Homo sapiens: one gene and its partner. The gene in region 2 interacts genetically with the main gene of each other region. Each region holds a gene or a part of one and is shown on either strand. Other genes may lie near its edges.

The links. A genetic interaction does not mean that the proteins touch.
Region 1: changes in MAP3K8 (region 2) and COXFA4 together harm fitness less than expected from each alone (positive genetic interaction), as found in Homo sapiens cells (one large-scale study listed by BioGRID).

Annotation. Positions count from the first base shown.
Region 1 is NC_000007.14:10,931,342-10,934,354, reverse strand, and holds the end of COXFA4 (cytochrome c oxidase subunit NDUFA4), read left to right. Parts: intron 1-662; coding exon 663-719; 3' UTR 720-2,412; downstream 2,413-3,013. UniProt on the Homo sapiens protein: Component of the cytochrome c oxidase, the last enzyme in the mitochondrial electron transport chain which drives oxidative phosphorylation.
Region 2 is NC_000010.11:30,454,549-30,458,205, forward strand, and holds part of MAP3K8 (mitogen-activated protein kinase kinase kinase 8), read left to right. Parts: intron 1-3,535; coding exon 3,536-3,657.

The DNA.
Region 1 (3,013 bases), on a different chromosome or scaffold from region 2:
TTTCTAAAAATTAATATTAATTGATTATAAAGAAATGTTGGAAATGTAAACAGCAAAAATACCGTATTATTTAAAAGCCATTACCAGAGTTGAAGTGTCAGTTTGATATTGAATATAGTCTGGATTAGGAAATTAGTGAGAGAGAGAAAATATCTTAGAAGTTATGTAAACCACAAAACAAAGCAGTACCTTATATTACTAGCCTCTTTTTGTTGCAGGATCTCTCCCTCTAAATTACAGCAGTTCATTCAGCAAGTAGGGAAGGTAATTCTTGTTAATCCTCTATTCTGTTGGCGATTCTTCCACGTACTTAGTAGAGTTAAGGCAAAAACTTACCGAATTGGAAGTATGTATCAGAAGGAATTCTTAATTATTCACTTTGAAATAAAAGAATTTTCCTTATAGGTTCCAAGTAGTAGACTGTACTATAATACTGCTCTTCTGAAATAAATTGAATATTTTTACCTTGCCAAAACTATCATTGAAGGCTGGAATTTTAGGTACAGTATTTTTCTGTGAATGATTTTATGTTGTTAAATATTCTTTTAAAAATTCATATCTGTAATTGTTACTGTAGAAAACCAAATACAAAGAATTCTAAAACCTTTGTACCGTCTCTGTGTATTTGAGATTACTTAAAATATCTTTTTTTCTGTTCCAAGTTCTACTCAGTGAATGTGGATTACAGCAAGCTGAAGAAGGAACGTCCAGATTTCTAAATGAAATGTTTCACTATAACGCTGCTTTAGAATGAAGGTCTTCCAGAAGCCACATCCGCACAATTTTCCACTTAACCAGGAAATATTTCTCCTCTAAATGCATGAAATCATGTTGGAGATCTCTATTGTAATCTCTATTGGAGATTACAATGATTAAATCAATAAATAACTGAAACTTGATATGTGTCACTTTTTTATGCTGAAAGTATGCTCTGAACTTTAGAGTATAGGAAATTAACTATTAGAATTTAAAGAATTTCTTGAATTTCTGTAGTTTGAAAATACGACTTTAAGCTGCTTTAGTAAAACACTTCCATTTTGTGTATAGACTGTTGGTAACTTCACTAGAGCATACATAACAACTGGAACTGGAAATTATACAAAAGTAAATTGGGAAGGATACTCCAGCATCTGACACTGGCAAAATGGAAACCTTTGAGTTTCTCTTACTGGCTGTTGAAGTGTGTGCAGTTTTTAACAATGGTTTTTACTTGGCATCTCTTTGTTGTGATTTTCAAGGTTATAAGTTGCTTTGGTCCTAGGATTGAAGTTGAAATCTGAGTTTATCAGTGCTAACCATGGTGCTAGTAGTCAAGAGATCTTGAGAATTTTGGCTGCTGAGTCTTGGTGCAGGGTGCAGGTTTTCTTTTCTTTTTTCTTTTTTTTTTTTTTGAGATAGTCTCTGTCACCCAGGCTGGAGTGCAGTGGTACAAACATGGATCACTGCAGCCTCTACCTCCCGGGCTTAAGTGATCCTCCTGCCTCAGCCCCTAAGTAGCCGGGACTACAGGTATGTGCCACCATGCCCAGTTAATTTTTGTAATTTTTTTTAGAGACAGGGTTTTGCCATGTTGCCCAGGCTGGTCTCAAACTCTTGAGCTCAAGCGATCCATTCTCCTCAGCCTCCCAGGGTGCTGGGATTACAGGCGTGAGCCATTGCGCTTAGCCATGGTGCAGGTTTTCAAAGGCCAGGAAGTATATTCATAATTTTAAGATGGGGAATATAGCAAGTTTTCACATAGGTGTGTGTAAGTCATCACATCATAGAAACTTGAGGAATTCAGTGACATTAATTTTGGATTTTCATACGTAAGTATACAATTAAATGTTTACAGGGTAGTAGAAGCACATTTTAAATGTCAGGAACTGAACTAAGTATTTGAATTACGTGGATTATCTCAAAAATTTTGAAATTGTTAAACGAGTTGAATTACTTGAATTCATTCTGTTAGTCAAATGGTGGATATTTACACCCATGTAGTTTTGAATTTAGAGTGTGTAGAGTGTTTTCAGTTACCAGACTCCATGCTTTTACCTCCTATGTGTCAGGTATAATTTGAACCTCTAAGAACAGGGTTTCTCAACCTTGCCACTGTTGACTATTTCTGAAAGACAGTTTGGTTTAGCAGACCATCCCATGCGCTTTAGCTTGTTTAGTAGCTAACTTGGGCTCTGCCACTACAGACAAAAAGCACTCTTTCCCTCCAATTCCCACAGGCTATGAGAAGAATGGAGACATTACCAAATGTCCATTGGTGGGCAAAATTGCTTCATTCCTACCTCTGTTGAGAATTACTCTAGATCCTTTGGCACAAATTACCTCAAAGTTTAAAATTGTGTAAACAAACAGTGTGTCATGTAATTGAAAAACATTAAGCAACTCCAAATAAATGCTACATTAAGAAATTAGTAATAACGTTTTCTAGAATTGAGGATCATTTTATGCATCCTTAAAAATTCTTTGAGTAGTATCTTTCTACTTTGTGTCTATCCTTGGACTTTGCAATGTAAGAATACATATGAAGTTTGGCATGAAATAGGATATGTCTTAATGAAGAAACTATTACTGCTATTTAAGAAACTTCAATGGCAATCTAAAGAAATTGTCATTTACAAATGCATCAGATACCAATGCTGCCACGAAAGATAACACACTTTTTTTCTTTGAATGTTTAGAATTGTGCTTGTGCTTTTTTTTTTTTTTTTTTTTTTTTTTTTGAGACTGAGTCTTGTTCTGTCACCCAGGCTGGAGTGCCGTGGCGTGATCTTGGCTCACTGCTCACTGCAACCTCTGCCTCCTGAGTTCAAGCTATTCTGCCTCAGCCTCCTGAATAGCTGGGATTACAGGTGCCCACCACAATGCCTGGCTAATTTTTGTATTTTTGGTAGACAGTTTCGCCATGTTGGCCAGGCTGGTCTCAAACTGCCGACCACAGGCGATCCGCCTGCCTTGGCCTCTCCAAGTGTTGGGATTACAGGCGAGAGTCACTACTCCTGGCCCTACTATGCTTCAT
Region 2 (3,657 bases):
GAACAAGACCTTGTCCTAAAAAAAAAAAAAACGCCAAGATTCTGTAAGTCCTTTCTCAACTCTCTCAAAGCCAGCACTCTCCCGGGCAGCAGAAGAAATCCTTGCTTTTGTGAATATTACTGAAGTTATTATTGAAAATGCTCGAGCGAGGATTCTTGACGGTTGTCTTTGAGCAGAACAATATTCAGAAGGGAAGCTGTACTTTTTTTTTTTTTTTAAGAATGCTTAGTCCCCAGATCTTAAGAATACTTTACCAAAGTGTGAGGTCTAATAAGACTTAATGCTTACGACATGTTTTCTTTGGAAAATGTTTCAGCATATTTGGCATTAGTCAGGAGTTCAGATATGTAATATTCCACCACCCTTTTTCCTGGAACCAGTTTGAAAAACAAACTATTTATGGTATTAAAGATGGAAAATACTTTTCTCTTCCTGGCAATGTGGTGAAGTTGAACATTTTGCAACATTGGAGAAAGAAGTGTTCTTTCTGGGGCTGTCTAGCGGAATGCATGGATATGAGATAATAACATATTTTACTCCTGAGTAGTATTTGGATCAGGTTTTTTTTGGCAAATGCAAATTGCTTTTTGTGAAGTGCAAAACTGTGCCTTGGTGTTTATAAATATAAACTCTCTTCTAATCAGCCTGCATTTAATATCTGCCTAGTACACACGAGTTGAAGTTTGATAATGAACAAAGTTGTGAAGTGACCAGTGAAACCTTTCAACAAGCTTGCTTTTACCCTTCCTACTTAAAGAGCCAGGAGATCTAATTAGTCAACTGTGCAGACTGGCTGATGTTAGAATTTGATCATGTGGCTACTGCACAGTCATAGACAATTTCTGATTTCTGCAGTATAGCTCCCAAATGCAAACCCTGGTTACCCCTGTTTGATTGCTCTCTCTAAGCATTGGTATTCAGAGCATTCTATTGTAACCATGTAATACACATCCAGGGTTAATCCAGCATATACAGAATAGACTGTTTTTGAGTTGCAAGGTACAGAGAGAGAATACATAGTGAATGCGAATAACAAATCAGAATTACTTTTAGAACTTGGTCCTTTTTGAAAAATCCTTCTAAGTCTGCTTGGTTTTACCTTTGTAAGTTAACATATAGTCATCACATGCACATATACGCACACACACGGTCTCTTTCCCTTTCTAATAAACATATTGAAAGGTGAAGGGTTCGATCGCTGACATCAAGGTTTTCTCTTGCTCCAGTGCCCTGCCCCGAGGGTGCAGAACTCTCAGAGAGCCCTGTGTTGGTCCCACCAGGGCTGTTTCATGCCTTCTAATCAGCCAGAGTGCTCGAACATTATGCCCTGCTGCTCCCTGATCTAACTGGTAGTTGGTAGAGCTTGAGGAACAAGAGCTCCGAGCCAGGAAGCTCTGGGGTTTCTACCTGAGTGGCAGCACCCAGGCCACCAGGCTTACAGATGTTCCATCCCCCCAGGCTGCCTAGGCGTGCAGTCACATAGAACCTGCAGAGCCACCTCTGCACAACCCCTGTGGGCTACACCAGCAGTGGGCACTCCGCCCAATCCTTGCTTTATTGGCAGGGAGGAGGGGGTACAGGAGAGAAGATAGGCATCCTCTATGGACAGTTAATAATACCCATTGCATTTCTTTTTCTTTTTTATTTGATTGTGGTAAGAACACTTAGCATGAACTCTACCCTCTCAACACATTTTTAAGTATACAATACACTATTGTTGACTATAGGTACAATGTTGTGCATTAATTTTTTAAGTTTGTGATATATTTAGTAGCAAAGTCCTTCTGGAAAGTCCTCTGGCTCTGCTGCAGGGAAAGCTTGAGAACGGGAGCTCAGTTTCACCTGTTTGCTGAGAGCAAAAGGAAGCTGGCCCGGAAGTGGCTTGCAGGAAGGAGTTGAGCAGGGTTAGGGTGGGGAGACTGGGCAGTTTCTCTGGTTTTTGTAAGCTAGTTCTCTAATTACTTACCCTGAAATGTGTTCCGGAAACACTGACCTCCATTCTCTTATTCACATGGCAGACAGTGTACAAGCTGTTTCAAGCGAAATACTGATAATCAGGATATTAACTACTATATGTCTGCACCAGCCATGAATACAAATCACTGGTCACCAGTGTTTGCTCTGTTCCTTTTTAAAAAAATGTTTAATTAAATTAGGTAACTAATTAATTTGTAAAGATGGGGGGTCTCCATCTTGTCCAGACTAGTCTCAAACTCCTGGGCTCAAGCAATCTTCCTGCCTCGGCCTTCCAAAGTGCTGAGATTCAGTGGCTCACGCCTGTAATCCCCACACTTTGGGAGGCCGAGGCAGGTGGATCACGAGGTCAGGAGTTCGAGACCAGCCTGGCCAACATGGTGAAACCCCATCTCTACTAAAAATACAAAAATTAGCCAGGCGTGGTAGCACATGCCTGTAATCCCAGCTAGTTGGGAGGCCGAAGCAGGAGAATAGCTTGAACCCGGGAGGCAGAGGTTGCAGTGAACCGAGATCGCACCATTGCATTCCAGCCTGGGTGACAGAGGGAGACCCCATCTCGAAAAAAAAAAAAAGCCAAAGTGCTGAGATTATAGACATGAGCCACCATGCCCCACCTCTCTTTGTTTCTTTCTTAAGTTTAGAAATAAATGCTCGTTAGAGAAACTATTTATAAAACCAGCCCTGTTTATTCAGCATGGACTCATGAGACCAAATATAACTTATACAATGTTAATATGGCTGCATTTAATATTTAGTCACTGGGCTACATAGTAGGTAAAAATAACAGATAGTTTGTAAAAATGACTCTTTAGAATCACTTCTACAATATTACACTTTATTTTTTAAGTTTTTCCCTTTCAAGAAATTTGTGTTAATACCCTATAGACTTCTATCACCTTTTATCATTGCAGATATTTAGAAGGTTAGCAGTGTAATGACAAACAGATAAAGAAGTCTGTTTGTAGTTCATTTAAATATAAAAGGAATTGGCGTTTTAGTTGAAAACTTAGCTACACCTGATCAGTGTACTGCAGAACTTTGATGAGTGGGAGTCCCTGATAGATTCCTGGTTCTAGGCTCTTTGCCACCAGATCAACCAGAAAAAGGTGGTGTTTTGTTTTGTTTTGTTTTGTTTTTTGAGACTGAGTCTCGCTCTGTCTCCCAGGCTGGAGTGCAGTGGTGCGATCTCGGCTCACAGCAGCCTCCGCCTTCCGAGCTCAAGCGATTCTCCTTGCCTCAGCCTCCCAAGTAGATGGGATTACAGGTGCCCATCACCATGCCCAGCTGATTTTTGTATTTTTAGTAGAGACCAGGCTGGTTTTGAACTCCTGATCCGCCCACCTCAGCTGGGATTATAGGTGTGAGCCACCGCGCCCGGCCAGGTGTTCTTCATCAGACTGCAGGGACACCTCCAGCAATTGCTGCATGGTTCCTGGGGAATGCCTGCATTATTCTCCTAGTTTAAGGCAAATGAGCCAATTTCCAGAACTGGATTAGGGAAATGGAAACCCACACAAAGGAGGGGAATGAAGCTGAATGTTTCCCACTTCTTTTTCAGATTTACATGAGCCCAGAGGTCATCCTGTGCAGGGGCCATTCAACCAAAGCAGACATCTACAGCCTGGGGGCCACGCTCATCCACATGCAGACGGGCACCCCACCCTGGGTGAAGCGCTACCC